2 separate regions of the Homo sapiens genome follow, and region 2 is linked to region 1. Evidence: fine-mapped QTL for protein levels in blood plasma. A gene starts in region 1. The other region holds a variant in brackets. All regions are shown on one strand. Distances are from middle to middle.

Region 1 (16,695 bases):
AGGGAGCATGAGCAAAGCGTAGAGGCATGAAAGTACTGGCTATTTTTGGAGAACAGTGATTAGACTGAAGAGGTTGGTAGATAGGATAAAGGAAAGTGGGATGGTGGGAGAAGAAGTGGGAAAGTTAATCTGGAGCAAGATGAAGAAATTTGAAAATGATGTCAAAATTTTTAACATGATCTTATAGTAAGGGGGCACTAACAGAAGTCTGCGAGCTGAAGGGTGCCATCATCAGATCCAGGTTTTGAAAGATGACTCTGGTGGTGGTGTAACAAATGGAAGGGAAGTGGGAAACCTGGGTGGGGGGCTTCTGAAAAAGTCTAGGCAATACATCTGAACTGGGGCAATAAGAAGAGGAGGCACAAAGGAAGGGCTAAATTCAAAAGACATTGAAGTGCCTGTTGTTGACACAGGTGAAGAGTCATAAAGACTACACAGCCCATGGAAACACCTCCTAAGACAATCCCACTGATCCACTCTGAACCTCTGCAATTTGATTTACTTCTGTCGATTTGCTGGCCATGTGATACCCACTTTGGGGACTTGTGCTGCTCCAGGCTTCTCCTAAAGGCTTTGTACCAGCTGAATAGCAAATGTAGGCACAGCCTCTTCTGAATCTGTCGGACTGTTTCTGTAAAACCCTGCTAATCTCTCAGTGCAAGATAAAGTTAAGCTGGTACGTTGGCTATGTGGGTGCTCAGCCCCACCCTGTCCTCTCTCCCAACTACATAATGCCAACTAGATCAAATTCTGACTAAAGCAATTCTACTAGTTAAAATTTCCATCAGAGCATTGGCTCTGGAACAGAGAATCTGAGTTCAAGGTTTGACTTTACCATATACTAGCTGTGTAACCTAACTTCTCAAACAAAGTTCTTCATCTATAAAAAGGGGATAATAACACCTATATCTTCCCTTTGATTCAGAGAGAGGCAGAAACAGAGATAAAGGGACACAGAGGAGAGAAATTGCACCCAAGAGAGAATCAAACACATCATAGTGCTTTTAAGCTGAAAACACTGTTATCACAGCAAGCAGTGAATGGCCATGAAAATAAGGAGGCCCGTTTTTAAAAATCTGGATGATGTAAATAAATGAGCCATTTGTTTCATCAAGTCTCATTTCATTTCAGTAAAGATGACATTTGTTATTATTTCTTGGAAAAAAAGAACCATCTTGATGCACTTATGTGTTGCTTTGCCCATTTCCATGCTTTTCACAGACGCAACGCATGGTCAGGAGCAACCTCTGAATGGTAGGTTAGAGTTAATTCTCTTTTTGAAATAAGAGCCAGTGACAAATATCAGACCACTGGTGCACAGAAATAGTGAAAAGCCCTAGTTACTCAAAGAATGTGGCTGACATTGAATACATTATGGTCCAATTATGTTTCTTTTCAGAGCGGTTTAGATGAGCAGATGGAAGCTGAGATTCCCAAGCCTGCAAGTCCCTCTCACAAAATGTTCCCTCTTTTATGTGGCATGGTTTAGATCAGTGATTCTCAAAGTAGGAGGTGGGGAGCCCCCTAGGAAACATGAGAAATAATGCTAGAGTATGAGACAAAAGATTGAGACTTGTATTCTATTTAATATCTTTTTAGTGCATCATTGTGAATATGTTTTATACTGTGTGTGTGTTTGTGCACGTGTGTATTGCTCAAAAATGTTTTATGAGGGGACCATAATCAAACACATTTTGGAACCATGTTGTGGAAGGGTTTTGGGTTAGATCTGGGTTTGAATTTCCTCATCACCTTTGTGATGTGTGTTTCCCCCTGACTTACTAATTTTTAGTTATCCTAAGGAATACGAATGAGGAAGCAATGGATACTGGTCCTAACATCGCCGTGAATTTCCCGTTGACCTAACTGTGTGGCGTAAGAGATTTAGTTCATTTTCATGGACTGCATTTATTTCATTCCTCATTCATACCAGGGGAAGAATAATAATGCCTTCTTGACAAAGTTCTTGTGAGGATTAAATAAATCACTGTTTCTAATTGAGCTCTCTTTTTCTGATTTGGGGTATAAAGGCAGTGTTTTAAGGCATGTGATTTCAGGTCGCCCTCACTGTCCTGGTTCACGCTTTTGCCTGGTCTCCTTCATGCCCTCTGTTTCTCAATGGTTCACCTGTTTATGGTAATTCTGGGAACAATGAGGCAGAAACAGCAGGTTCCAGTCCCAGCACCACCAATTCACTTGCCATTGAGTGGACGTTCAGCTTGTACTGATTGAGCACCCTGCTGTGTGCACAACACGGGCTTACTGTCACCTATTCCTCATAGCATCTCAAAAGGGATTTAGGAATTTCTTCACTTTTCAGATTCAGAAGATGTAGAGCAGTGCTGTCCAAGAGACCTTTCTGCAGTGATGGAAGCATTCTGTAGCTATCCTCTTCACTGTGGAGGCACTAGTCACATGTGGCTGTTAAGCACTTGGAATGTGGCTTCTGTGACTGAGAAACTGACTTTTACATTCTACGTATCTTAAATAATTTCAACTTATATAGCCACGTGCAGTTATGGCTACTGTGTTGGACAGCACAGTGCTGGAGAATGCTGACAGACCCTAGAACTCCAGAAAGTGATTTAAAAGAAAATAAATTAGAGAGAACACTGAAAACAACACCATAAAAAGAAGTGTCCACTAACAAGTGAGAAATTTCAAAGAATTCCAGAGAGAAAGCAGAAGGCTGTGGATTAACAGAGCGAGAAGTCCTGGCCACAGCAGTGTAGCAGCGTGTGGCGAGGCAGGAGCTGTCCTGGGACATCCCAAACTTGCATGTCCTGGGACATGCAGAGTGGAAGGCACCCTGGGCTATCACAAGGGTGATGGATAAGAAGATGGGTCCAGGGCTAGGAGCTTTCCTCACTTTCCAGTGTGGCTCCAGACTAAGGGGCCAGAAATCCCAGGGAACTCCCCATAGAACCAGTGACCTCCAGAGAGAGTGGGACAGCTCACACCCAGGAAACACACCGCCACTGCACACACCTGGTAGCAGGCTCCATCCCTGTCCCACAGTCCCTGCGGGAAAGCTCCTTTAATCAGAGGTGGTATCCACCAAAAGGAAAACAGAAATTCTCAAATGACATGGTAAACACATATCCAAAAATCCCAAATATAGTTGAAAAACCAGCACTATGAAGATGAAACACCAAACTCAACACACAAAAGAACAAATATCCAAGAAAACATAATTGATAGAGCAAACAAAGAAGACTTCCCCCAAGTTAGTATAATGAATATCCCCAGAGAGATGCAAGATGATATGTCATTTATAAAGCAAGGATGGGCTATATGAAAAAATTAGGTATCTTAAAAATTATAAATGTAATTATTTTAAAATCAGTAGATGAGCTGAGCAGAATGTACATGGAGGAAATGCAAATTAGTTCCATGTAAGATTGAGCTAAGGAATTCTCCCTTAATAAACATAAAAGGACAAAGAAATTCTAACTTCTAATGAGAGTTTCAGCAAGAGGAAACATTACATATAGGGAGGGATTAATGAGAGAAATAATAAAAGGAAATTTCCTAAAGGAAAAAAAGTGAGTTTTCAAGTTGAACTCATCCACTAAATTTCAAGCAAAATAAAATTTAAAAGGCCGTAACACAGGAAATTGTCATAAAATTCAAGAGAAGATCCTGAAAGTTTCTAGAGGAAACAAGACAAGTCAATAAAGGAACATGAATATGACTGGCACCAAACTGTCATGTACGTTACTAAAAATAATTGAAGACAGTTTTCAAAGGTCTGACTGAAAATTATTTTGGATAGAGATTCCTAAATTTAACCAAACTAGCATTCAAGTGAAAGCAAAATGAAGACTATGAGGGGCGGGATAGTGTCCCTCCAAAATTCGTATGTTGAAGTCCTAACTCCCAGTAGCTCAGAACGGGACTGTATTTAGAGATAGGGTTCTTAAAGAGGTAATTAAGTTAAAATGAAATCATATGGGTGGCTCCTAATCCAATATGACTGCTGTCCTTGTAAGAAGAGGAAATTAGGACCCAGATACACAAGGAAGACCGTGTGCAGATACAGAGAGAAAACAGCCATCTACATTCAGAAGAAACCAACCCTGCCAGCACGTTGGTCTTGAACTTCCAGTTGCTGGAATTGTGCAAAAATAAGTTTCTGTTGTTTAAACCAGCCTGTCTATGGCATTTGTTACATTATGTGATAATTCAGTAAGTTTACAGCAGACTCTCTCAATGAATTCATCGAGAATGATTTACCTCACACACACACACACACACACACACACACACACATGCACACACACAGAATTAAAAATGTAAGGTACAAAAAGTAAATAAAGAACAGTAATTGGGAGGCTGAGTTGGTTGGATCACCTGAGGTCAGGAGTTCGACATCAGCCTGGCCAACACGGTGAAACCCCGTTTCTACTAAAAATACAAAAATTAGCCAGGCATGGTGGTGGGCACCTGTAACCCCAGCTACTTGGGAGGCTGAGGCAGGAGAATCACTTGAACCCAGGAGGCAGAGGTTGCAGTGAGCTGAGACTGCGCCACTGCACTCCAGCCTGGGTGACAAGAGCAAAACTCCATCTCAAAAAACAAACAACAACAATAACAAAACAGTAATTGAGTGAAGAAAGCACTAAAATTTATCATTAGGTTTAAGTAAGTACTAACCCATAATGAACAAAACTAATTACAATCCAAAACTGAAACTACACATCATGTTGTGGGGAGGTGTGTAAAGGCAAGTTCAGAATGTGCAAAGAGGGCAAGACGTGACGGTCAAAGTGCAGCATTCATTTCAAGCAAGGAAGCTCCTTTTATTTTTTAATGCTTAATTATAACTTTATTTTTTCCTTTGTTCTCCTAAAAAAATAAAACGGGATACATGTGCAGAGTGTGCAGGTTTGTTACATAGGCATACGTGTGCCACGGTGGTTTCTGCACCTATTGATCCATCCTCTAAGTTCCCTCTCCTCACCCATCCCCCACCCCACAGCAGGCCCTGGGGTGTGTTGTTCCCCTCTCTGTGTCCATGTGTTCTCATTGTTCAACTCCAACTTATGCATGGAAGCTCCTCTTTATTTATTTATTTATTTATTTATTTATTTATTTATTATGCTTTAAGTTTTAGGGCACATGTGCACAATGTGCAGGTTAGCTACATATGTATGCATGTGCCATGTTGGTGTGCTGCACCCATTAACTCGTCATTTAGCATTAGGTATATCTCCTAATGCTATCCCTACCCCCCCCCCCCCACCCCACAACAGGCCCCGGTGTGTGAGTTCCACTTCCTTGTCCATGTGTTGTCATTGTTCAATTCCCACCTATGAGTGAGAACATGCGGTGTTTGGTTTTTTGTCCTTGTGATAGTTTGCTGAGAATGATGGTTTCCAGCTTCATCCATGTCCCTATAAAGGACATGAACTCATCATTTTTTATGGCTGCATAGTATTCCATGGTGTATATGTGCCACATTTTCTTAATCCAGTCTATCATTGTTGGGCATTTGGGTTGGTTCCAAGTCTTTGCTATTGTGAATAGTGCCACAGTAAACATAAGTGTGCATGTGTCTTTATAGCAGCATGATTTATAATCCTTTGGGTATATACCCAGTAATGGGATGGCTGGGTCAAATGGTATTTCTAGTTCTAGATCCCTGAGGAATCACCACACTGACTTCCACAATGGTTGAACTAGTTTACAGTCCCACCAACAGTGTAAAAGTGTTCCTATTTCTCCACATCCTCTCCAGCAACTGTTTCCTGACTTTTTAATGATCGCCATTCTAACTGGTGTGAGATGGTATCTCATCGTGGTTTTGATTTGCATTTCTCAGACCTAAAACCATAAAAACCCTAGAAGAAAACCTAGGCAATACCATTCAGGACATAGGCATGGGCAAGGACTTCATGTCTAAAACACCAAAAGCAATGGCAACAAAACCAAAATTGACAAATGGGATCTAATTAAACTAAAGAGCTTCTGCACAGCAAAAGAAACTACCATCAGAGTGAACAGGCAACCTACAAAAATGGGAGAAAATTTTTGCAATCTACTCATCTGACAAAGGGCTAATATCCAGAATCTACAATGAACTCAAACAAATTTACAAGAAAAAAAAACAGACAACCCCATCAACAAGTGGGCGAAGGATAGGAACAGACACTTCTCAAAAGAAGACATTTATGCAGCCAAAAGACACATGAAAAAATGCTCATCATCACTGGAAGCTCCTCTTTTATCTGCTTTATATACTGATTTTCCTCTTATCTACAGAAAAAAGTATTCTGATGCAAACACACACACAAAAAAAATTTTAAAGCTACTATTGGTTGACCAGTTTCAGTGACTCAAGCCTGTAATCTCAGCACATTGAGAGGCCGAGGTGGGCAGATCACTTGACCCCAAAGTTTGAGACCAGCCTAGGCAAAATGGTGAAACCACATCCCTACAAAAAAATTAGCCAGGCGTGCTGGTGTGCGCCTATAGTCCCAGCTACTCAGGAGGCTGAGACAGGAGGATTGCTTGAGCCCAAAAGATCGAGGCTGCAGTGAGCTGTGATCATGCCACTGTACTCCAGCTTAGGCAACAGAACGGGACCATTTCTCTAAACAAACAAACAAACAAACAAACAAAAGCCACTATCCTAGACGATTTCTAAAGTCCTTTCTAGCTTTAACTTTCTAAAATCCTCGTGATTGCCTCGTCTTTATGATGAAGATGCCATTTAGTGAAAACACAGACCACGGATATCTCATAGGAGGCTATGCCACGGCCGTCTTTGTGAAATTACTGCAACCTTCTTGACAGTGAAATATTCTATCCTTCAACAATTGCTTTGTGGGCAGGTAACCAAAGGGCTAATATCTGATGTGAAGGCTGGATCATGAACCTCCCGGTTGGGTTCTACATGTACCTTACCTCAACATCCGGGTCAACATGAGTGGAAGGGGCTTGGTGCCTCAGTTTCCTCATCTATAACATGAAGAATTGGTCTTCACATCTCTGAACCTCTTGTCAGCTTTTCAATGCCATAATTTATATCAGTCCCTGGTGCTTGATCAAATTTAAACGGTGTGAATTCCAGACAAAGAAAAATTAGACCTCCAAAGAAAATATGGGTCTACAGAGACATATCAAGATGTTATAAATATAATGTGATGATGATAAATATGCACTGCTGTATCAAATTCTTAAATAGAAAAGGATAATAACAAAGTAAATCAAAACTTTTTAGAGAAAACTTCGTTTCCTAGGATAGATGGAGTGACAGGTCCCAAGTGATGTGCCAACCTTTTTTCTCCCAAGCTTCTTTGAAGAGATTATCTAAGTATCGTTTCAGACACCCATCACCCTTATTTTTAGCTCTGAGTTCTCTTCACGAGTGTGGTGACCTGTGGCTCTAAGTTCCAGAGGCTCCCAGATATGGCACATGACTCATTTGCAGGTACCCTGCAATGATTTCCAGGAAGGTCAGTGGGGTGGGGGCCTGGAGAAATGATTTTTGATGTTAAACCCTTAGCTCTTGTTCCTGTTCCAACCACTTGATCAGAAATGACACACTTCATAAATTGATCCCTTGGTGCCATAAGCAATTGGCAGTGCAAATAGAACCCAAGTGATTCGGTTCTCCAAGAGGCTCACAGCTGGCTGGGGGGTTGGGGGAGACAAAACTCAGGGCTTTGGTCACAGTCTATTTTCAGCCCCTGATAGCAGTTGTGTTACTCACGTCTCATTCACCCTCTCCCTTGGCCTCCCTCCTGCCCTTCCCCCAGCAGGCCAAGGCTGGTGACAGCCTTCATATATTTAAAGAGGACAAGAGCCCCTCAGACTCAGTTGAGCTGAACGGAGTCCACACAGGCAGGTGAGTGGAGCAAGGCAGACATTTGAGCTGGAGGTGGGTTGGTTCTGTGGCTGGTTTGGACTATAAAGGGTCCCATAGAGTAAGAGCACATTTTACGTCTCAAGTGCCAGCACCCTCTCTGGTTCTGTGCAAGGAGGCTCAAGTTGTACTTGACTCTGGTGTGGATCTAGCAGGTATTAAAAAATTCCTGCAAGGATGGTTAATATTTAGGGGGCTTAAGGGACCTCATAGGCAGATAAATGAGTAAAGAATTATCCTCATTATAAAACTACTTACGTGGTGGAATTACATTTCCTGTCATCTTAGTTGGAACAACTGGAAAGCGGGAGGAAATAATGGAAAGTCTGCTGACCTTCTCGTCTTACAACCACCATATAATTCATGGATGACAGACTTTGAGAAGGTTCCTGCCCTCAGGGGCTTGGTCTCCTCTTCTGCAAGGATCAATACAAATTGGCGACATTTTTTCCAAACTGTAAAGTACTGCACAGATACAAAGCGATAAGCGATTGTACTAGATGCAATATATAAGACAGCTTTCCCATGCTCAATTTACCTGGAATGGTGTTATTCAAAAGGTCGTGGTGAATGACTGAGATTTTGGGCTTGTTGATTTTAAATAGACTTTTGTATCCCAAAGATATTCAGCAACAAGTTTGCTTTTAATCTTTTGAAATTAATCAAAACTGGACCCCAAAAAGACATTGCTATGTTGAAATATATTAAAAGCTCTATTAAATGGGAGGATAATTTATCCAGTGGTTAGGATTCCCACTGTTTCCTCTAGGTTTTAGTCAAGGACTTTTTAAAATATCCCAGTGAATGACAGACATAGGTGTGATTGAGAATAAGAAGAGGTTTTAAGCAATGGTCTGAGTGGAAATGCTGCTGAAAGATCCAAGCTGCCGACTCTAATTTCTGCCCTGTTCCTGAGCCAAGGTGGTGACTCCTCCAAGAAGGAGGAGTTGAGTTACTGGTCTGAGGAACCTTGTCTCTGCAATACGATTCAATGTAATTTAATAAGCATGTATGGACCATCTCCTATGTCAGGGCTGGAGGGAGGTAGAGGCAGCTCTATGCAGGGAAGGGTATAAGTGAACAGCACGAAGAGTGGGAAATTGGGGATGGCCTGTGTCCTCAGTTTACATCTGGGATTAAATCTCAATGCTGGGTACATACAATTCATCACAATGCATGTAGAACTGCTTTATGATCCAGAAAATGTGAGGGAGTCTTATGACTTGGCTTTGTTCCCTTTCTGAACAACTCAGTCGTTTGTGGTCAGTGGCAATGAGCCCAGGCTATTGGGCAGGAGGTGTAGCTGAGCCCCAGGGCTTTGTGTCCTCCCTGGGGTTCAGGCAGACAGGTGCTCTGCAGCCCAGACACACGTGTCATCCATCAGAAACAGGAGACACAGGGCAAGGGGCCTCCTCCTTCGAAGGAGAGAAGGGGGGAAGGAAAGAGAGAAGGAGGGAGGGAGGAAGGGAGGAAGAGAGGAATGAAGGAAGAGGGAGCTGCAGCAGCATTCAGCCAGCAAATAGCCAAAATTCCCTTGGAGGAAGTGGAGACAGAATCTTGATAGAATAGAAACTCAGAAATCCTGGGATATTCAAGAAGAAAATAAAGATAATCAGTTATAGAGCCCGTTCAAATTATAGCTCTGAATATCACTTAACTTATCTGAGTTTCCATTTTCTGAACAATAAAACTAAGGGTAGCCTACCTCTATCAAAGGGACTTGTGAGAATTGAATGAGATAAAGTATAGGAAAGTACTTTTGTAAAGTTTAATATAACCGTACAAATATGTGAGAACGTTGAGAAAAGGCATACAGCCAAACCCAGTGGGTTTTGGGGGGGTTTCCTGCTAAGTACAAGCGTGCTGATAAAAGTCCAGAGGTCAGAGTGGGTAAGAAGCTGACCAGGAGTTAGAAGATAATTAATTTGTTTTACAAGAGGAAAGACCCAGGGCTAGGAATATAACACACAGGAAATACAAGTCTTGAGGCAGACAGATTTCCAGTTACAAGTGTGCTGTTCAGATATCTGTGAATAAATACTGTATAGAGGGTTGGGCTTCATGCACAAAGAGAAATGTGATGCCTGCAAATGTGAAAAACTGCAGTTATTCATCCCAGTGAAGAATGGCAGGAAGGGAGACAGTAATGGTCTTAAAGGGCATTGAGGATGGAGCCTTTTCTGAGCTTTACTGTGGGAAAGGGTTGATCATGATTTGATGGTCGTTTATGGCCTAGGCAGGCATGGAACGAGTACTAGCTTATTTAAGGGTCACAAAAAGTTATGCAAAACTCATTTTTCAGAGGAAGAAACTAAAGTTCTAGAAAGCTTAGGAATTGCCCAGCATCACATGGCTGAGAAAGCGGCAGAGCCAGGAGGTAAACTGGGATATGATGTGGTCTTTAGAAATAAATTGTAGAGGTCAAAATAGAACAAAGAGTGAGTTTTGGGAAGTAAAAGCTGGCCACGCTTCAGATATAATTTCACAAAAGGTGTAAGATGCCCATGTTCTACAGCCTTCATTTAATGTATGTCTACCATGTCTGAGTTTAAAAGGGGCTGAGAGCCAACACTCAGGTTTATTTCCATGCTGGCAATGAGCAACCTGTTCTTCCTGGGCTCTGTGAAAGGGCCTCTGGCCGGAGGACGTCATATATCTGGGTTCAGAAGCTCAGGAGGAAGCAGCCACTGACCTTGAATGTCCTACACCGAGAACTGAAGGGCATGAGCTCCCCAGACTACAGGGCCCCTGGCTAGGCATGCTGCCTCCAACCCAATCCAACAACGCAAGGGGACCGACTCTCACCCCGACCTGGGCACACCTGTCCTGGGGCACCGCACACTCCAAAGGCTGAAAAACAAAGCTGATTCACAGTCTGAACCAGAAGGGCCATGGAAAACAAGCAGGGAGTGAGTTGTTTGTTCTAAAAGAACAGACTTGAAAACTGGAGATAATGTAATAACAACAATAATAGTCATGATGCAAGTAACTACAATTATTCAATTCCTGCTATGTATTAAGTAATTCTATATGGTGTCTTAGCTATTATTATCTTCTTTAACCTGAAAACAACCTTCCCAGACAAGCCTTCTCATATTGTCTTTACATGAGGACATGCATTGAGGACACTGGGTCAGAGAATTTGAGCAACTTGCCCAGTGTTCAACAGTTAGTGTTTCTGAACTTAAGCTTGGTTCTTCCAAAGCCCATGGTTTTCACTGTGGCTATGTCATCTTTCTTACCCAAATTAAGAGTGAATAAAGGAGAGGGTTTGAGAGGGCACCCCATTGGGCAGCTTTTCTGCAAAGTGAGGTTTCAATCACTTTTCAGATCCTTAAATCTGTCTCAGGGCTTAAAGGACCCTTGAAGGGACTTCACTGTATAGCAGCCACTTGGACATCCGTCCCCACCTCAGCTGAAAATCAATAGTGCAGAAGAAATCTCCAGTTCCAAGGAAGCCCTTTCCATGTTGAACAGCCGTAACTCAGAAAGTCATTGATTTCAGTGAATGAATTCAGTTTCCCTGTTAGTCCCACCCTTGAATACCCTCTGTGTCCCATGGAGAGACAATGGATTGGTCACGTCTCAATTCCCATCAACTGGGAAGTCTGGGTGATGGAGGTGCTGACCCTTGTCCTCTCTCCAGTGTTATAAACAGGAGCATGAGATACAGAACCAGCTTAACGGGGGGTTAAATGGCAGCTCTTCCAATTACTAGCTGTGTGACCTTGGAAAAGCTACTTAAGCTCTTCAGTTCTCTTATCCATAAAAATGGAAATAAAATTTGCTCTGGGCAGCTGTTGTAAGTATTAAAAAATAATATATGTAAAGCAACTGACATAAAATAATATATGTAAAGCTTTGGAGTCAGAGAAACGTAAGTTCCAATCTATTCATGTGACACATATCAGTCCCATGAACTTGGACTAATGTAATTTCCCAAAGCCTCCATTTCCTCATCTGTAAAGTAAATGTTATAATAGCACCTACCTTGAAGGGTTGTTGTGAAGATTAAACGATACCCAAGGGCAGTGCTCCAGGCATGTTAACTTCAATAATAAAGTTAGAAATGACTATTACTATCGCTTAGATTCCATATATATATATATATATGTTCCTATGATCCAAAATCTTTGCTTCAGCCAGTGTAGACAATTGAACTCACTGCAGGAAATCAGGCATCTAGTAGGATGACCAACTGAGCTAGCACTGAGCTGAAAACGGTGGCATTGTGGCACTGTGGCTTGAGGTCTCTGCCCAAAGTCATGGCCTAAAGTTCCCTCCTGGGTGCTCATTTTATGTACCCACCACTTTTGCCCTAACTCATCATTGCTCAGCTTTATAGTTGGTAGTGAAAGAAGAAAGAAAGAAAGAAAGAAAGAAAGAAAGAAAGAAAGAAAGAAAGAAAGAAAGAAAGAAAGAAAGAAAGAAAGAGGAAAAGAGGGAGAGAAAGAGATGGAGAGAGGAAGGGAGGGAAGGAAAGGAAAAAGGATGGAAAGAAGGAGGGAAGGAAGGAAGGAAGGAAGGAAGGAAGGAAGGAAGGAAGGGAGGGAGGGAGGGAGGGAGGGAGGGAGGGAGGGAGGGAGGGAGGGAGGGAGAAATAGTTGGATTAGGAAGAATGTGCCCAAAATACACAGTTTAGTTATTCTTTTGAAAATTCAGATTGATGAATAACAACTTAAAATTGTGGGAGAACCTAATTGGTTCTCACATTTTATATTACTCTACAATTTACAGAATGATATGACAGTACTTGAACTAATAGGGTCCTCTCAGCAATAGTGAAATCAAAAGGATTATTGCCCTCATTCTAGTGAAGACACTGAAGTTCAGAGAGATTGAACGGTTTTCCCAGATCACACAGCTTCGAAGAGGCAAAATGGAACTAGAACTCCAGCCTCTGGCACCTGATCCAGTGTTTTTCCCACTGCCCCACTGAAGCACATTCCTAGTATAATCTCTTCTATGGTATTAGTTACATCTTAGTTTAAAAGTGGGCACAAGGTAGTCTCTCACCGGGATCTGAGTATCCAAATCTGGAGTCCAACCTCTTCCAAGTTGATGTCACAGGGCTGTCCATTCTATCTCATCCTCGTAAATTCCAGACTGTCCCCCATTTCAATCTTGACCCACGATTTGTCTTTGACAACATAGTCATCTCAGGGACTGGCCCAGAGAGTCGTGCCAGGTGGTATGATGGAGATTGTGACCCAGGTTACAAACAGGGCCGAGTGACGGGCAAGCCTATAATTGTATCCCACCTTCAATGACCCTTGCCAGTACCAGGCAACGCTGATAAACAAATGGCCCATCCCTTGGTACCTTGCCAGGGTAAGCTCACATTCTGGGAGTGTCTAGGGGAGTGTTGGGACACAAGAATTCCAAAGCAATGCGGGAAGCTGAAAAGGTTATGTTCATAAGCCAGGACCTAACTGGGATTTCAAATCATAGCTCCTTAATTAGCACATTGGTGCCATTTGAGTAACCTAAAGTGAAGTGGGAAAAAATAATTTCTCAATACTGCTTTAAATTCCATCATATTTCCATGACCTTCACAATGGTCCTGCCCAGGAGATACTATTATCAACATTTTTTACCCGAGTTCAAGGTCGAGATTAGAATCCATGTCTCTGGATTCCGAATGCCTTTTTATTTATTTATTTACTTATTTTTTCAGATGGAGTCTCACTCTGTCGCCAGGCTGGAGTGCAGTGGCGCAATCTCAGCTCACTGCAACTTCCACCTCCTGGGTTCAAGTGATTCTCCTGCCTCAGTCTCCTGAGTAGCTGGGACTACAGGTGCATGCCACCACGCCCAGCTGATTTTTGTATTTTTAGTAGAGATGGGGTTTCACCATGCTGGCCAGGATGTTCTTGATCTCTTGACCTCATGATCCATTCGCCTCGGCCTCAGTCCTGGGATTACAGGCGTGAGCCACCATGCCTGGCCTGGATTCAGGATGCTTTAAAATATCCTCTACCTTTTGGCCTGTGAGACATCTTCTGTTTAGCCTCCATGGTTACATTCCCATCTTCAGAAATGGAACTGAGCATCATTAATAGAGTACTTACAGATTTATATTTTAAATTTCAAGTCCTGATGATATATGTCAGATATTTATGATCGCTTAAAAACAACCAGTGCTAGGATACATTAGTTTGTGAAGGAGGTATTATCTGTAATCCTATTCTCATTTTGAAAAGTATGCCTAGGCAATGAATCCACACACACACACACACACACAGATATATATGTATTTTTATCCCCCAAGAGGTATCTCTGTCTCCTATTAACTTGCAAGACATGCCAATGAAATCTCCACTGCAAATCTGAAATGAGAAATTTGACCTAAGGTTGTTTTCATTGAAAATTTCTATATCATTAATTTTACAAGTGTCGCTGCCATGTTCCTGGAGGAAATTTATTATATTTCTCCTCTATTTTGTATCATGCTGAAACTCAGGATCAAAATGAACATGAGCAAAATTATGTGAGTCTATTCTTTTCTAGAAAATGTAACATCTTTAATGAGAGAAGAATGGATTGTATAAAAAGAAGTTGGCTAAGAAAAATATCCCTAAATGCTTACTTTTAAATACACCTTGGTTATAAATGAGAGGGTCCAGCAATCTTAAAAATCTATTCCAGCCCTGAAAGTCTGTAGTTTAAATGGAGTCCAAAATAAACAAATTTGGGCTATTTTAGAGGCTATTTAGGCCTCTACGCCTTTCTGCTTGCTCTTTTCTCTGCATGACTTCATTAGCATTATTCCTTCCCACTTTTCTGTATCTGGTGAACTCCTATTCACCCTTCAAACCCCCATTTGAATGTGATCTCTTCTGTGACCCTCCAACAGTTCACTGCCTTTATCCCCAGACTAAATGTGGGGAGCCAGTCCGTCATTTGAGTTTCTGTAGCATGTCTCACAAGACTCTTCTCTGGTACAGAGCATTCTGAATCTTGTCTATTTTTCTCACTACAACATGGGCTTCTCAATGCCAGGGGTCACAAACTACTCATTTTTATAAGTTTTCCCCCTTTTGTCACTGAGTACTTAGTGCAGTACTTGACACATGATAGGCAGGTAGTAAATGCAGGGTGAATGAATGAATGAACGAATGAATGTGAGTTTTAATTCTAAGTCTTTCAACTCAAAATCCATTACTCTTTCTAGTTTCCTAAACAACCCGAACTACAGAAATAGAAAAACCACATGCTTCCATTTTTTAAGAAATTCTTATTTATTTATTTTAGAGGCAGGGCCTCACTCTGTCACTTAGGCTGAAGTAGAGTGGTGTGATCATAGCTCATTGAAGCCTAGAACTCCTGAGTTCAAGTGATTCTCCTGCCTCAACCTGCTGAGTAGCTAGGACTGACTACAGGAGCATGCCACCACACCAGGGTAATTTTTTGGGGGGTGGGGTAGAGACAGGGGCCTCACTATGTTGCCCAGGCTGGTCTCAAACTCCTGGGCTAGTGATCCTCCTGCCTTGGCCTCCCAAAGTCCTGGGATTGTAAGTGTGAGCCACCATGCCCAGCCCAATGTTTCCTTTTTTAAAGTTCTTTTCTAAAATTTTACTGAATTAGCAGAAGATCCTACTTCTGTGAGAGGAAGGATAGGATGTTCCTGGCTAACCTCACAGTTTTTCTAAGCAGGAAAAGCTCTTTGGGGGAATATTTAGATAGAAACATTCCTTCTAGACCTAGTATCAGGTTCAGTGGTCTGTTTGCTATTTACTTTCTGTTTCTTAGCAAAAAACTGCCTTTGTTATGAGACTGTGAGATACAATCCGGACCAGTTGACCCAGGAGGGCTTAGTGTTAATCGCCAACTATTATAAGAAGGTGACTGGCTTCCCAGAAGGGAAAGTGAAGGTCACAAGCAGCCACTCAGAATGGCTGGATAGTGCTCCATGTCATGACACACTAGGCTTCTTAGAAACCAGAGGATCCCAGTGAAAATGCAGCTCCCCTGGGCAGCTGAATTTCAGAAGTTTCATTTAACATCAATGGCTTATTTTAGTTCTGCTTTGAGGAAACTGAAAACTTGGATTCATACTAAAAACATATGCAGATGAGGACAATTATTATTACTATTTTATTTATTTATTTATTTTTTGAGACGGAGTCTCGCTCTGTTGCCCAGGCTGGAGTGCAGTGGTACAATCTTGGTTCCCTGCAACCTCCGCCTCCTGGGTTCAAGTGATTCTCTTTCCTCAGCCTCTCAAGCAGCTGGGATTACAGGTGCCCACCACCACACCTGGCTAATTTTTGTTTAGGCCGGGCACGGTGGCTCAAGCCTGTAATTCCAGCACTTTGGAAGGCCAAGGCGGGCAGATCACTTGAGGTCAGGAGTTTGAGACCAGCCTGGCCAACATGGTGAAACCCCGTCTCTACTAAAAATACAGAGGACAATTATTTTTTTAAATAATTTTCTTTGGTTAATATCTCTTAAATGTAATCCTGTGGTGAGGAGACAATGACAGTCCTGGGGCTGTGGCTATTAGCAGCTCCTTGTAGCTGAATGTCTCCAATGGTGCAGGAGGACATGTCAGCACCATGGTCTGGCTCCTGTTGAGCACTGTGAACTCTGTGGGACCTTCCTGCACATCATGTCGTTTGATTTTCTAAAGGACACTAAAGCAGCAGGGAAAAGAATAACTGTATAGGTGGGAAAACAGGTATAAAGTTAAGCTATGTAGTTCATCCTGATATGAACAGCAGGTAGAGGGTAGCCCTGAAAGCAGAAAGCAAGTTTCCAACTACTGACCTAGTGTAGTGCCAATATATCTTATAGCCTAGGTGATTATATTCTTAAAAAGGAAT
Region 2 (16,695 bases), 3.0 Mb before region 1:
ATAATACACACAGATCCCATGTAACCCCTACCCAGTCTCCTCCAATGGTTATTTCCATCTTACATAACCACAGTAAAATATCATAATCAGGAAGCTGACATGAGTACAATGTCTCTGTATAGTTGGAGGTCATTTTGTCACGTGTGTACAATTGGGTAAGAGCCAGCCCTGTCAAGGTATAGAGCTATTCCATCCACAAGGATCTTCCTCATGCTACCCTTTTAAATTTATGTCCATTTTCCTTCCCCTCAACATCCATGTCCCTTAGAAATCACTAATTTGTTCTCCATCTGTATACTGTCATTTCAGAAGTGTCATAAAAATGGAATCATAACATATGTGTTCCTTTAAGATTTTTTTCCACTTAGCACAATGTCCTGGAGATCTATCCAAGTTGTGTTTATTAATAGTTTGTTCCTTTTTACTGATGGGTAGTTTTACATGATAAGGCTGTGCCACACTTTGTTTAACCATTCACCTGCTGTAGGACACTTAGGTTGTTTCCACTTTCGGCTACTACAAATAAAGCTGCTGTGAATATCTGTGTTTAGGTTTTGCGTATGAATATATGTTTACATTTCTGCTGGATAAATGCCCAAGAGTATGATTACCCAACTTACATGAAAATCATAATTTAGATTTTTAAGAAACTGCCCAACAGTTTTCCAGAGTGACTGTATCATTTTATGTTTCCCCCAGCATTGTGTGAGAGATCTAGTTTCTCTGCATCCTAACTAGTAAGTTGTATTGTCACTATTTTATATTTTAGCTCTTCTAATAGGCATATACTGACATCTCACTTTGATCTTATTTTGCATTTCTTAGTGGCTGGTGATATTGAAGATCTTTTCATATGCTTATTTGCCATCATATTTCCTCTTTAGTGAAAGATCTCAATATGTATTTTGCCCACTTTCTAACTGGGCATTTTTTCTTGTAAAATATTTAAATTTTATGGGTTCTTTATAAATCATAGATACAAGTACTTTGTCTGATACAGAATATGCAAATATTTATCCCAGTCTGTAGCCTGTCTGTTCATCATCATAACAGGATCTTTCAGGGAACAATAATTCTTACATTTGATAAACTCCAATTTATCAATGCTTTTCATTAATAATGTTTTTGTTTGCAGATATGACATAACTACAAACCCTTCACCAAGATCTAATTTCCAAACAGTTTGATCCATTTTTTCTTCAAAAAATTGTATAGTTTTACATTTTACATTTAGTCCATGATCAATGTTGAATTAATTTTGTATAAGTTATAAAATTAGGTTAAGTTCATAAGTTTGCCTATGAATATACAAATGCTCCAGCCTGTTTGTTCCATTGAACTGCTTTTGCACATTTGTCCAAAATCATTTGGCTGTACTTGTGTGAGGCTATTTCTGGGATCTCTATTCTGTTTCATTAATCTACATGCCTATCCTTCTCCAAATATCACACAGTCTTCATTAGACTGCAGCTAAAGAACAAGTCTTAAAATAACATAGAGGGTTTTCTCCCACTTTCTTCTTTTTTTCACAATCATTTTATCTCTTCTACTTCCTTTGTATTTCCATAAAATTTTCTGAATAATCTTGCCTATGTCTATGAAATGTCATACAGATATTTTAACTTATATACCAATTTGGGTTTCCACATTCTCATTACCAGTATATAGAAATATAACTAATTTCTATATAATTTTCTTATTTTTTACAACCTTCTTAAACTCAGTTCTAGGAAATTTTGTTTTTGTCTTTAATTTTGTAGATTTCTTGGGATTTTCTATGTACATCGTCATGTCACCTGGAAATGGGGAGAATTTTATTTGTCCCTTTCTGATCTGAATACCTTTTATTTTATTTTTTTGTCTTATTGCAAGAACTGTCAGTACTATATTTAATGAGAAGGGTAAGTGAGGACATTCTGATCTTACGAAGAAAGTGTTCAGTCTTTTATTATTAAATATACTGTTAGTGTAAGTGTTGTGTGGATGCTCCTTATCAGGTTAAAATAGTTCCTCTCTATTCTTGGTTTTCTGAGAGTTTGTGTTTATTTTTAATAAATGGAAGTTAAATTTTGACAATATTTTTTCTGATAAAAATCACATGATTTTTATTCTTTAGCCTTTGGTGAAGTATACCAATTGTTTTTCAAAAAATGAATGGAGACCAGGCACAGTAGCTCAAGCCTGTAATCTCAGCACCTAGGGAGGCCAAGGTAGGCGGATCACTTGAGGTCAGGAGTTCGAGACCAGCCTGACCAACGTGGTGAAGCCCCCATCTCTACTAAAATTATAAATATTAGCCAGGTGTGATGGCATACACCTGTAGTTCCAGCTACTCAGGAGAGGAAGGGGAATCACTTAAACCTGGGAGGTGGAGGTTGCAGTGAGCCAAGATCGTGCCACTGCACTCCAGCCTGGGTGACAGAGCAAGACTCTGTCCCTTTCCACACGCACACAAAAATGAATGGAGCCTTCCATCAATAGAGTAAACCCTACCTGGCCATGTTGCATAATTATTTTTATATTACTGAATTTTATTTGCTAATATTTTACTAAGGATTTTTGTATCTATGTACATGAGGGATCCAACTTTTAGGTTTTTTGTTTTCATTTTTTTTTAAACTGTCTGTCTCTTTTGGTATCAAAGTTACGTAGGGATCCGACATGAATTGAGAAGCATCTGTTTTTCTTCTATTTTCTGGAAGAGATTGTATAAAATTAATGTTAATTCTTCTTTAAACATTTGGTAGAATTCTCCAATGAGACCATTTAAGCCTGAAGAGGTCTTTCAGGGGAATTTAAAAATTACACATTCAGTTTACTTAGTAGCTACAGGGCTATTCAAATTATTGTTTTAACGTTGAGTGGATTATAGTAGTTTGTGCTTCTTGAAGAATTGGTCCGTTTCATCTTAGTTGTCAAATTTATGTGTGTAGAGTTGTTAGTAGTATTCCTTTATTATCTTTTTGGTATCTACAAATTCCATATTGATATGTCCTGCTTTATTCCCGATATTGGTTACATATGTCCCAGCGCAACTCCCTTTCTGCCAGTCTGGCTAAAGGTTTGTCAATTTTATGTATCTTTCCACAGCTTTTGGTTTCAATGATTTTTTCTAATACTTTCTGGTTTTCAATTGCTTTTATTATTATTTCCTTCTTCTACTTGCTTTGGGGTTGTTTTGCTCTACTTTCCTTTTATTTATTTTATTTTATTTTATTTTATTTTATTTTATTTTGAGACAGCCTGGGCCCAAGAGTCTACAGTTTTAAGAAATTCTTCATATAATTCTTATTCTTGTTTGTATATTGATCTGCAAACTACACTATAAAATCACTGTCCTATATGATCTTCATAGTTCCCTCTGGTTCTCATATTCTGTTTCTCTCAGCATTTAGGTCGCTGAACTTTTCTTTGTTAACTTTTAGTTTAAGTCCAGAGATACAAGTGCAGGTTTGTTGCATACATAAACTTATGTCATGTGGGCTTGTTGTACAGATTATTTCATCATCCAGGTATTAAGCCTAATACCCACTAGTTGTTTTTCCTGATCCTCTCCCTCCTCCCACCCTCCATCCTCCAAAAGGCCCCAGCGTGTGATGTTTCCCTCTATGTATCTGTGTGTTCTGATAATTTATCTCCAACTTATAAGTGAGAACATGGGGTATTTGGTTTTCTGTTCTTGTATTAGTTTGCTAAAGGTAATGGGCCTCCAACTCCATCCATGTTTCTGCCAAGGACATGATCTTGTCATTTTTATGGCTCCATAGTATTTTATGATATATATGTATCACATTTTCTTTATCCAATCTATCATTGATGGGCATTTAGGTTGATTCCATGTCTTTGCTATTGTGAATAGTGCTACAATGAACATATACATGCATGGGTCTTTAAAAAAGAATGATTTGTATTCCTTTGGGCATATACCCAGTAATGGGATTGCTGGGTCGAATGGTATTTCTATCTTTAGGTCTTTGAGGAATTGCCACACCATCTTCCACAATGCCTGAACTAATGTACACTCCCACCAACAGTGTATAAGCATTCCTTCTTCTCCACAGCCTCACCAGCATCTGTTATTTCTTGATTTTTTTAACAATAGCCATTCTGACTAGTGGGTCACTGAACTTTTAAAGGAACCCTGTAACTTCTAGGAATCTTAATGAGCTTATCCAGCCAACTAGCAAATAGCCAACCTATTCTAGAAGGACGTGTTTTCCAAGCAGAAATTTCAATCATTCCTGGAAATTCTTTTTAAATCCTGTTTATATCTGGCAGGACATCCTGAAACCACTCAAGGACGTCTACCTCTGTGAGAGCTATGCATGGGATTCTTTATCAACTAGAGTCTATCAGAAAAATGATTTCATTGAAATGCCTTTAACATGCTTATATTCAGTATAGAAGCAATATAAATTGTTTGTATGGTTCTTAAAATTTATATAAGAAGTCCTTTGGTTAAAAGAATTCTGTATTTTTACAAGTAGTATTTAATTTATTTATTATTCTATTTAATGTGTTTATGCAATTCAGGTTGAACTCCAGTATAGTCATAGATAAGCACTAATCATACTAATAACTGTAAAATAATAAGCTATCACAGACTACACTAACATTATATTATAGCAAAATGTTAAGCCAAATACTAGTATCTTGCATATCAATGATCAGCATATCTGAGTTTATTTCACAGGGAGCCTCAAAACAAATCAAAGATCTATTTGTTCCCTTATAACATCTAGAAAAGATCCAATATTAAATCTGCATGGAACATGGAACTTGCTTTAGCTACTTAAAAAATGAATAAATTAGAGGGCATAATAGAATGTATTATAAGTAAATAAGTACAAAGGCTTAGTTAACCTTATCTTGATTTTTTATTCTGACTTATAAGGAAGTTAATGCATATATATTTAACTTACCTCACTCATTTGGAAAGAGTAGTCTATATGCTTATTGACTTTTTCCCCTAAATTAAATAAGAAAGAGAAAAACATGTTAAATTAGCCACTGATCAGAACATATTCAAAAGTCTGTGTAAGGAAAAAATAGGAATTGAATGAATTAAAAAATTCAAAGAAAAAATACTAGAAGAAAAGATACAAGATGATTCGGAGCTAAATTGTTTAAAACAGACTCCAAAAGAAGTCTTACCTAAAACTGCCTATAACAGGAAAAGCATAAAATACTGATGTGTAAAATACAATCTCAATTACTGAGAAATAAACTTAACTCTGATCAATGTGGTTATCAACCTATAACCACAAAACCACTGAGAGTTAAATACCCAATAGGGTGTCCATTCATATGTTTTAGTTCTCACCACATGAGATTTCATATTCTCTCACCTTATTTTCCTGAAATCAAACCAGACAGCTTGTATATAGAACACTACCAGTTTCTACACAGGCCAGAGTACTTTCCCGACATACAGATAGCTCCGTAATGGTAATGCATTTAGTCGTTTGCACTAAAATACATGTTCAAGTAAGTTTATGACACTAAAAAAGTTAAATACAGAACTGAAATTCTTATTTTCTAGTGGTTCCAACTTGAAAAAGCCCTAAGATATATTTAAGTCAAAAACTTCCTATATATTTTTTTTGGAGAAAATATCACAATGGGAACCACATAAAATGTTAGCACTTTAAGTTCAAGTTAGTGACCATAATTTTAGAAATACGATAGAAAAACTGGCGAATGAAACTGAACAGAGAGCCCAGAACAAGACACTTTATTATATGGAAACTTGATATTGACCTATTGTAGGGGTTGACTAATGTCTCTCCTACACCAAAATTCATGTCCATCTCAAACCTCAGACTGAAACCTAATTTGGAAATGTAGTCTTTACAGATGTAATTAGTTAATGATCTAGAGATGAAGTTATACTGGATTTAAGGTGGGCCCTAAATCCAATGATGGATGTCCTCCTAAGAAAAGAAGAGGGAACAGAGGCACAGAAGAAGGCAGTGTGAAGATAAAAGCAGAAATCAGAATGATGTGTCTACAAAGCCAAAAAACACTAAGTATTTCAGGTGCTGTAGTCTGAATGTGCTCATGGTGCAGAGCTCTTATGAATGGGATTAGAGCCCTTATTAAAGAGATTCCAGAGAGCTGCTTTCCCTCTTCCATCATGTGAAGACACAGTAAGAAGATGGCATTAATGAGCCAGGAAACAAGCCCTTACCAGACACTGAGTTCAGTACCATGATCTTAGACTTCATAGCACCCAGAACTGTGAGAAATAAATGCTTGTTCTTATAAGTAAAAAATAATAAAATAAAGCAATTGTATAAGTCAAAAAAAAATTTAAAAAATCTACCATTTGTATAGCTTTTTCACAACCCAAGTATGACAGTCCAATTCCTTTTCAAAGATCACACAAATCCCTCAGTTATTCTCTTAAATAATTAAGCCCATTATATACATAAATTTATACTTGACAGAAATTCAACCATTATAGGTCAGCTAGGGAATAAAGTCCAAAGTTTTCTGCAGAGGAATATTTTGAGTTTTGATCTGTACATTGGTTAAAACGAGGCTGTATGTGAAAATAAACACTGGTTTGTAAGAAAGCTTTATTTTATTTATAATTTTATTTTATTTTAAAAAGCAGATTTATGGGTCATAGCTTTGCTAGTATAAGATGGGGTCATTCTTGATATGAGTTTTTTGCCTTTGGCAAACAATAAAATTCTTTAAAATTAACTAAAACCAACCAACCTCTCCAACCTCACCCTTTCACGCTCTTAAGTCTGGCCCACTAGTCTCCTTTCAGATCCTTATACCTTCTTTCAGTTCCATTCTCCCTCTTTGAGGGGCCTTAACACACAATTATTCCTCTGTAAGGAATGCTCTCTGCTATGGATTGAATTTGTCTCCCAAAGTTTATGTGTCAGAAACAATCTGCAATGCAACAATGTTGAGAGGTAGGCCCTTTAAGAGGTGATTAGGTCATGAGTGCTCTGCCTTCATAAATGAATTAGCACTGTTATCACAGGAATAGATTTGTAATAGCAAGAATGGATTTGTTATGAAAGAAAGTTAGGCCATCTCATGTGTGCATGCTCTCTCACCAAGTGATGCCTTCCACCATGTTATGACACAGCAAGAAGGGGCTCACCAGACGTGGTCCCCAACCTTGGACTTCCCAGCTTCCAGAACATGGACCAAATAAACTTCTATTGTTTATAAATTACCCAGTCTGTAGTATTCTGTTATAACAGCACAAAAGGGAATAACACACTCTCTCTCTCCCCACCTTGCCCTGGGTAATTCTTCACATCCTTCAGATATCAGCTTGAAAGTCACTCTCTCCCCAGGGAAGCCTTCTTTCACATATCTGGCTAGTTCAAAGCATCTGATATATCTCTATTTGCACTTGTCAGGGTTTCAATTTTACACGAATATTTGTGCATTTTAATTACTATCTTTTTATCCGCAAAAGAAGATAAGTTTCTGAAAAGTGAGCACAATTTTTGATTTTGTTCTTTTAGCACACTGATTGGCAAATGAAAGACGGCTGATAAACATTTATTGAAAAATTGAATGAGCGAGCTGACAAGGGAGCCAAGTTTTTCACTGTGGCTGCAAATGAAAAGCCAAAATATAATGATAACTTGCCATGCACCAGGCACTGTGCAAAGAGGTATAACAAATATTTACATGGCATTTCCTTTGTATTACATATTATAAGTAATCTAGCAATGATTTAAAGCATGCACAAGGATGTGCATAGGTTATATGCAAATACTATGGCATTTTATATAAGGGACTTGAGCATCCTTGGATTTTGGTACCAGTGGGGTATCCTGAAACCAATGCCTGTGGATACTGAGAGACAACAGTACTCACACACATACATAACACACCCATACAAAACACACCCATACAACTTCTCCTTCTAGGTGATAATTCAAATCCTATATCAGCAATTTTAAAGTACTGTCTGCCATCCCCCATCAAGATACAATTTATTTTACTTTTTGTATGTGTCAAATTTATACATTTTATTTTGTATTTAAAGTTTTATAATAATATTAAAACCATATTTGTCTTTTTCATTCTGTTGACGTTTGCACTGGTGATGCAAAAACAATGGGATAAAACTGCTGGTGCCATCATGTGAATCAAGGCTATGGCACCAGACTATATTAGTAGTCATTATATTCTCCACCATCATGCACTCTCAGTACAAAAAGAAACAAAAATGTAGTTTAACTTAAAAATGTCCTTGATAAACAGTAAAGCTTATGAAGTTTATAAAATCTTGACCCTGAACACACAAATTTTTAATAATCTATAAAGAAACAGGAAGAATGCATGAAGCGCTGATGCTGCATTCCAAAGTACCATGGTTGCCTCATGAAAAAGTACTTTACATTGCAAGGTAAAGTAGCTAAATTTTTCATAAAACACCATTTTAGTTGAAAGTATGATGGGAAAACATATAGAGTCATACAGACCTGACTATTTGTCAGATATTACCTCAAACATTAATGACATGAATCTATCACTTCATGGAAAACACCTGACAGTATTTATTGCCAATGACAAAATTTGAGTTGCAAATGAAATAATTTTTGTAAACTTATGACCGTCACTGTGTGCTTAACAGATTCCCAAGGCATTCCTGATAAGATCAGTGATGATGTTAGCATTACGTTTTGGTATTTTAAAATGAAATATGTCAGCATTTGGAAGATCTGTATAACTCAGTAGATAATTGTTTTCCAAATAAGCAATACATGATGTTACAAAACCATGCATGAGAAAAAGATACATTTAAAGTGAAGGACAGACCAATAGATTTTAATGCAGCAGTGAAATAAAAGTTCATTTCAATGGTTTCAAATTCTACATTATATCTAACTTTAAAGAACCTATTATTCGTTGAATTTGGGGGCAAATCAGAGAAGAATATCCATAATTATTCAAAAACTTTCTAAAATTATCCTCCCTTTTCAACTATAGATCTCTAAGAGGCCAGATTTTTTTCATACACTTCAACCAAAACACAACACATCACAACAGAGTGAATGTAATGCAGATACGAGAATACCTATATTTTATCAGGCCAGAGATCAAAGAGATTTTTTTTAAAGTAGAACAATGCACTCTTATCACTAAATTTACTTTGTTTTAGAAAATATACCTATTTTCATAAAACTATGTTAAGATGAAATAGAAGACTCCTAAGCATGAGAAATTTGAGAAGATGTCCTTTAATAAAATAGGAAAGACTTAATGGTGGGTGACTAATACAGCAGAGGCTACAGGCTACTGACAAATATCTTTCCTCCTCCTCCTCCTTCTTTGCTAATAGAACCTCAATTATATGGTGTAGTAATGTACTCAAGCAAACAAAACATTTCCTAGCATCCATTGCAAGAGTATGACATAAATTCAAAGCTCTCAGCTGTCATAAGTGGTATGTCTATCTCATAATGTTTGTGTAAGCACTAAATAGATAATGCATGTACTTGGCATATAGGAGGTAAGCAGGTGTTATTCTTGTTGATATTGTTGTTATTATTCTATTCTACTGTTAAGCTTCAAAACTGCTGTAAATTCCTTGGGCTAAGTTTCAGAATGTCAGAATAAAATCGAAATAACTCCTTCTGTATTCAGATCTTTGTGTTGCAGGATCTGCTCTTAAAATGTTTTACTCTAAGCAAAACATGAAAACTAACCAACTATAGCTATACCACTTAACTTTCTGAGTGCAGGCTTTCTCATGTAAAAGATACAAATCTAAAGGGAAATGCTTGAAAAATATTAAACATCATGCAGTATTATCATCAATGGGTTTTACCCATGATTACTGCCTAAACACATAGCTCAAAACTCAGTTGATCCTGATCCTGATCATCTCTCGTTAGATCTGTGAATGAAAAGGAGACCAATTTAGAATGGCTTTACAGTGAATAGATAAAGAATAGGATTCTAAGAAATACAAGCCTTGTGTCTCAAGATATGATAGTTAACATTGACTTAGAGAGGCTTTTTTTTAAGGACAAAAACAGTCACTATTATGCCAAAGAACAATGCATCAAACAAAATATAGTTCCAATCACAGAACAATCAAGCAACTGCAAACCTTAAGCTAGGTTTAAAGAGTTTTACAATTCTATTTTTACAAAAAGAAAGTTGAAAAACTGCAAACACTAGCCCCTCTTTTTCCTAATTATTTTTGTTCCATTTAACATAAAACAAGTAGGTGAAAAAATATTTTCAAGCTGCTATTAAAATTTGATGCGATGCATTTATTTGAGAATGTGGAAAAGGGACAATATGAATCCCCCAGATTACCTCCTATTATTACTAGCTCTCCTTTCACACTTTAACCTTTAAAATTACAGCTTTCTTTCTCTAGAACTAACACTGTTTCTTCCCTTTCTAACTCTTGCTTATTTTTCACATTATATCAGCCTAGACCTCCTCCTTTCAGGCCTTGCCTGAAACCTCAACTGTCCCCTGGATTGGCCTCCCACCTGCTCCCATACCACCTTGAATGCAGCCCTCTCTGGACACCTAGCTCAAATACACATCCCTCCACAAGACTGTCAGCTCCAGAGAACCAACAGAGACACATTTTGTCAACTGCATCCTTTTGTGAAACATCGGGACATTCAAGAGGATAGATTTACTTCCACACACACCATGCTCCCTCTCACCCCTGCACACTTACTGCTCGCTAGCTCTCTCACATGTATGCACCCTTGCAATTAGATGTTCACACAGACCATAGACTCAGACACTTTCATACTCCCTCATGGAGTATAAAGATGCTGTGACTATGCATAATCACCAAAACCTCTGTCAAAACTGAGGCCTGACTGAAGAGGCAGGATTTGAAGCCAACAACTCTGTCAGCTTCTTTCTATTCCTCCAACTTCCTCTAAAATGAATGGATAGCACTATACTCTCCCTGCGGGCTAGATTCCAGGGATATGAAAGATTTGGTACCAATCACTGTGGAGAATCATCAAATACTTGCCAAAAGTAAAGCCAGCCTAAAGACTGAGTCTTGAGTTTTCACTGAAAGCACATGACTAAGAATACACACTCCAGCAAATCCACAGCCCAAAAATAGCACTTGTACTTACCAACTGGTCTTCTCAGTTTACACTCTTACTAGCAGTATAAAATAAAATATTTCTAATCAAATATTAACATTACTAAAGACGGATGGCTTAGTTGGACACAATGCTTAACATAGCCGTAAAGATGCAAACAACCTAACGTTCAAGTTTTAATCTGCCTTTTCCAATGCTAAAGTCTCAAACTGTCTTTTCCAATACCAACTGTATCATAAATCAGCTAAAGCATAAACATTTCTTGAGGCTATGGTGAGCTATGATCACACCACTGCACTCCAGCCTGGGCAACAGAGTAAGACCTCAAAAAAAAAAAAAAAAGTTAAATTCCAGCAATGACATTTTACTGGCAATGTTTGTTTATGTAACTAATTAAGTGCTCTATTAACTTCTGCCATTAGAATTTCATTTTTAAAATTAGAAGATAGTAGGAAATTAGCCAATTGGAGATCACTGATTCCTCATGTGTTTAATTGTGAAAAAAGTAGAGAAGATGTAATAAATCTTAGATCTATTAAGTCTAAAAGGCAAAATGTTATGTTGTCTCTCTTACAATCAATTTTATAAATTAACTCTCATATTCAGTATTTAAAGGTGATTTAGAAAGCACAT[A/G]CAAAATCAAGGCTTACCTATATGGGTAAATTTAGTCTAAAAAGTCTTCTTATATTTTAAAACATAGAAATGAAAGTAGCTATTAAAAATTGATGCTCTGGAACTTGAATTTTTCAGCCTTCTTCAGCCAACACTTTTGTTTTCATAACAGTGTCGTTTATTTTATTTTTATTTTATTTATTTATTTATTTGAGACGGAGTCTCACTCTGTCACCAGGCTAGAGTGTAGTGGCGCAATCTTGGCTTACTGCAACGTACGCCTCCCAGGTTCAAGGGATTCTCCCACTTCAGTCTCCCGAGTAGCTGGGACTACAGGTGCATGTCACCACACCCAGCTAATTTTTGTATTTTTAGTAGAGATGGGGTTTCACCATGTTGGCCAGGATGGTTTCGATCTCTTGACCTAATGATCCACCTGCCTCGGCCTCCCAGAGTGCTGGGATTACAGGCGTGAGCCAACACACCCAGCCAACAGTGTCATTTAAATCCAAGAGAAAATATATCTGGAAGCAGAGTTCTAAAAATCCACTGGAATGTTCATTAAAAAAAAAAAAAAACTCTCATAACAATGAACTTTTCATACATCTTAGTGCTATGGTTTAAATATCCCTCCAAAACTCATGGTGAAATTTAACTGTCATTGTAATGGTATTAGGAGGTAGAGCCTTGAAGAGGTGATTACGTCATGAGGGCTCCATCCTCATGAATGAATTCATGCCATTCTCATGGGAGTGCAACAGTTACATTAGAATTGGGTTCCTAATGAAAGGATAAGTTTGGACACATTTATCTCTTGGTCTAATGTGCTCCCTTGACCTTCCAACATGTTAAGAGGCAGCACAAAGGTCCTTGTCAGATGCCAATACCATGCTCTTGGACTTTCCAGACTCCAGAACCAAAAGCGAAATATTTTCTTTATAAATTACCCAGGCTGTGGTATTCTGTTATAGCAATAAAAAAAAGTAGGCTAAGATACCTAATAAGAACACAGGTCTCAATAATGGGCAGTAAAACTAAACCAGCAAAAGAACTGACATGCTAAGAAACATCTAAAAATATACGAGTCATATGAGTGGCCTGAACTATGCTGCTCTTTAGGCCCTGATCTCATCAATGCCACACTTCCCTGATGCTTGGGTTCTGGTTCTTTGAATATATCTAGATACAGGAATTTGGGCAGAATGCAGTAATTAGTCCCAGCCATCAAATATACGGTATTCCTCATCAATATCTATTTCTCTCACCTCCACCCTAATCAGAGGCACAATTTGGATCACATGTAAGCATAAATAGATTACAAAGGCCCTTTTTTAAAATGGGGGAGTGTGACTGGGCATTGTGGCTCACATCTGTAATCCCAGCAATTTGAGGGGCCAAGTCAGGTGGATCAGCTGAGCTGTGGAGTTCAAGACCAACTTGGGCAACAGGGTGAAACCCCATCTTCATAAAAAAAATAATAATTAGCTGGGGAGGTCGTGGTGCAGCACCCATAGTCCAAGACACTCCAGAGGCTGAGGTGGCAGGATCGCTTGAGCCTGGGAGTCAGAGGTTTCAGTAAGCAGAGATGATGCCCCTGCATTACAGCCTGGGCAATAGAGCCAGACCCTGTCTCAAAAAATAAAAAAAAAAAAAAAATAAGGGGGGTATGCTTCAACTGACACCATTAAGAACATAGAATGATAACACTCAGAATGGGAGGAAATATTTGTAAATCATATATCTAATAAGGGACTTGTATTCAGAATATATAAAGAATTCTTGCAACTCAATAATGAAAAATACAACTAAATTTTTGTAAACAGGCAAATGATCTGAATAGACACTTCTCCAAAAACGTGAATAACTAATAAGTATATGAAAATACTTGCTACATTAGTCAGTAGAATCAAATCACAATAGAATCAAAATCACACTGAGATACCACTTTACAACCACTAGGATGGCTATAATAAAAAAGACAATAACAAGTGTTAGTGAGTATGTACAGAAATTGGAACCCTCATACATTATTGATGGGAAGGTAACATGCAGATGCCTGGAAAACAGTTTGGCAGTTTCTTAAAATGTTCAATATAAAGCTACCACATAATCCAGCAATTCCACTCCTAGATATATACCCGAGGAAAATAAAAGCATATGTTCATATGAAAACTGATACATCAATGTTCATAGCAGCATTATTCATAGAAGCAAAAGAAAGTGGAAATAACACAAATCCTACCATCGATGAATGGATAGGTATGCTATATCTCTACAACGGAATAGTATTTGGCAATTAATAAGAATGATGCACTGATAAAAGCTGCAGTATGGATTAACTTCAAAAACGTTAATCTACGAGAAAGAAGCCAGTTACAACAGACCACATGTTGTATGATTCTATTTATTCGAATGGTCTTGAATAGGCAAATCTATAGAGACAATAAAGAGATTACTGGTAGGAAGTGGGGAGGATGGGAAGTGACTGCCTAAGAGGTTTCTATTTGGGGTGATGAAAGTGTTCTAAAATTAGATTATGATGATAGTTACAAAACTCTGTAAATACACTAAAAAAAATCCAACTTTACACGTCAAATAGGTGAATTTTACAGTATATAGATTATATCTCAATAAAGCTGCTTAAAAAAGGGAACGAGGAGGATGCAGTAACACACGGTATTTCCCGGTGCCTTTGAAGACTGAATAGTAATGATCAGATCTTTTGTCACTTTGGAAAACTGTTTCTGTGTTTAAATCCAACACTAAACAAGACATGAAAATAAAATATCATTGAAGGAACTGGGGTCCTGGAGATAGCAGCAAAATAGTATGTGCATTTTAAGGAAAATACATGTATTAAAATAGGTCCACGGAATACAGGTGGTGTAAAGGCTTTGGCAAACAATGGATAAATATTTCTCAACGGAACTAAAGGGCTTAATGAAAGCTGTTGAAAAGCAACAGCAGCAGCAGCAGCAGCAGCTTTTCCAAGTGCCTATGGCTCTCAGTATCTCAAACTGATAGATTTTAGGATCTGCTACTCCTACAATTAACAAGCATCTCAAAGCATGATAAGTAACGGGCAGAGAGAGTGAGGTAATAAGACTCAAGGACCAGCTCCTTACACGTGGGATAGCTGTCTTGCACTCTATACTGCTGCTTTTTTTGGGAAAGCCTTCGTTTCCATTGGCTGGGTTCGGAGACCCAAGCACTGCAGCGCTAGCCTAGCAGCCCTGAATTACTCGGCGGTTCCCAGGCCTGCAGGGGAGCAAGGAGGGTGTTCCGGAACCATAGGGGTCACAGGTCGCAGGTCCCTGGCGCGCAGGAGCAGCAGAGAAATCTGTGGGGCGCCGAAACCAACCCCACTCACCCCAGGCGGGGGACTCTGCCCCGCAGTCCCGGTTTCGCGCTGAGCACGCCACGCAGCGAACCTCCCTAGGACTCAGGCCGCAGGGCCGCCAACGTCCCCCGGGGCCTCTGCGCCGCGGGTGGAGGGGTGCAGGCAGCCAGCCTGGCTCTCCCTTGACGCCTCTTGGCGCGGTCCTACCTTCCTCCGCCAACACTTCCAGGAGATCCGGGTCGCCCATCTTCGCCAGCTCGTTAATGGCACTGGTGCCTGAGAGGCAGCAGGAGAGGGGCAGCTGAGACAGACGTGGAGATCTGAGGCAGGTGCTGAATCTGACTGTGGGCCGCCGGAGTTGCTGCTGCTGGACTTCTAAGGGCCTGCTCTTCCTTCTGCAGGCCTCCTTCTCCTCCTCCTCGGACTCCACCGTCTCTGGGCGCCACAGCCAGCCGGCCTTCCTCTCCGGCGGGTACTTCCACTCGACCCGGTCCCCCACAACCTGCTTCGCGCGCTTGGCCCTGCGCTTCCCCACCCTCAGCCGGTAGCGCTCCTGGGCGCTCTCCCAGTACTTCTCCAGGCACCTGTCCCTGTGCCTGCTCGGCAGCTGATCCCGCAGCCGCCACTCCTCCCGGTGCTCGCCAGGATCCTTTCCACTCCTGCCCTCTGGCAGCTTTCCTTTCCCCTTCGCTGCGTCCCTGTTTCCACGCCTCTTTCCCCGCCTCCAGACCGCAAGACCGGCCGGCGCCCCACCCTCGGAGACCGCCATCTCCCCGCCCCCCGGCCCGGCTGGCTCCACGCTGGCCCCCTCCTCTCCGCTCAAGCCGTCCCCAGGTCCCTGCTCTGCCGCCTCCCGCACCTCCTCCGGACATGCAGCCTCCCGTCCCTCCTCGGGACCCGCCGCCCCCCGGCCCTGTTGGCCGGCCTGCTCCATTCTGTACAGGCTTCGCACGTCCTTTTCCACTGGGTCCACCCACGACCAGGAATCCTGGTTCCCCAGGGCTGCCGCTTCCCTCCTGTCGGAATCCTCCTCCTCCGATCCCCAAAGGGGGTCCCGATGCTCCCTCAGCCGGTTGGCCGGGTCTTCATCGATCCGCTCATGCGTGCCACTCGGAGAGAACCCCTCTCCCAGTTGGGAGTTACTTTTGGTCTCGTGGGGAAAAGTCCCTCTCCCTTAAAGGAACCCCTCCCTTTTAAGGCCGGCTCATGGCCCGAGACTCCAAGGTGCCAGCAGCCCCTTCCCCATAGCGTCTGGAGCGGGAGTATTGACTTTTCTCCTGGCCCTGCCTGCTTCCTGGGTTCCCAGCAGGATCTCTGCCCTCTACAGGTGGGGGAAGGTCATCCCTTGTGGCCTGAGTTCCAAGTCAGCCTCTGCCCCTTAAGAGTTGGATAGTGTGGGGCAAGTTTCTCTAAGTTTCAGTTTCCACATATTTAAAGGAGAATGATAATAGTACCCACCTCCTAGGCTGTTGAGAGAAGCACGGTGCACAGTCCTTGCCACAGAATGTGTTAAACATTTAGCTGCTATTAAGATTAACCCATATTATAGTCCAGCTGGGATGACGCCTGTCATCATCTCAGCTGGACGATATCGCTTGAAAGCTCAGGAGTTCAAGACTAGCCTGGGCAACATAGGGATACCCCTGTCTCTACAAAAAATTG

Which allele goes with the higher level. Positions count from the first base shown, and alleles are read on the strand shown. Strength reflects both the effect of a copy and how common the allele is.
As copies of G replace A in region 2, the plasma level of the protein whose gene starts at base 7,823 in region 1 goes up (weak association).

Evidence for each region. A credible set is the group of variants that fine-mapping cannot tell apart. PIP is the posterior inclusion probability: the model's chance that the variant is causal. Protein levels are from antibody-based Olink assays in UK Biobank. Linkage for the fine-mapping came from a reference panel and not from the study's own genotypes, which makes the PIPs less certain.
Region 2: its variant is the best candidate, but not a certain one, in a credible set for the plasma level of the CSRP3 protein (UK Biobank, PIP 0.57).

The regions. Positions count from the first base shown.
Region 1 is chr11:19,193,111-19,209,805 of GRCh38, reverse strand. It overlaps CSRP3 (cysteine and glycine rich protein 3), which reads left to right and starts at 7,823. Exons shown (of 6, transcript NM_003476.5): 1 at 7,823-7,852. CSRP3-AS1 (CSRP3 and E2F8 antisense RNA 1) reads right to left here and starts at 13,093. Exons shown (of 6, transcript NR_183675.1): 1 at 12,887-13,093. RefSeq lists an enhancer at 1-3,421.
Region 2 is chr11:22,192,078-22,208,772 of GRCh38, reverse strand. ANO5 (anoctamin 5) reads right to left here and starts at 15,688. Exons shown (of 22, transcript NM_213599.3): 1 at 15,241-15,688; 2 at 4,923-4,969. The coding sequence starts at 15,280. RefSeq lists enhancers at 14,871-15,060, 15,311-15,400, 16,051-16,120, 16,151-16,210, 16,441-16,530 and a silencer at 15,821-15,870. The variant A/G (reference allele first, on the strand shown) is at 11,715.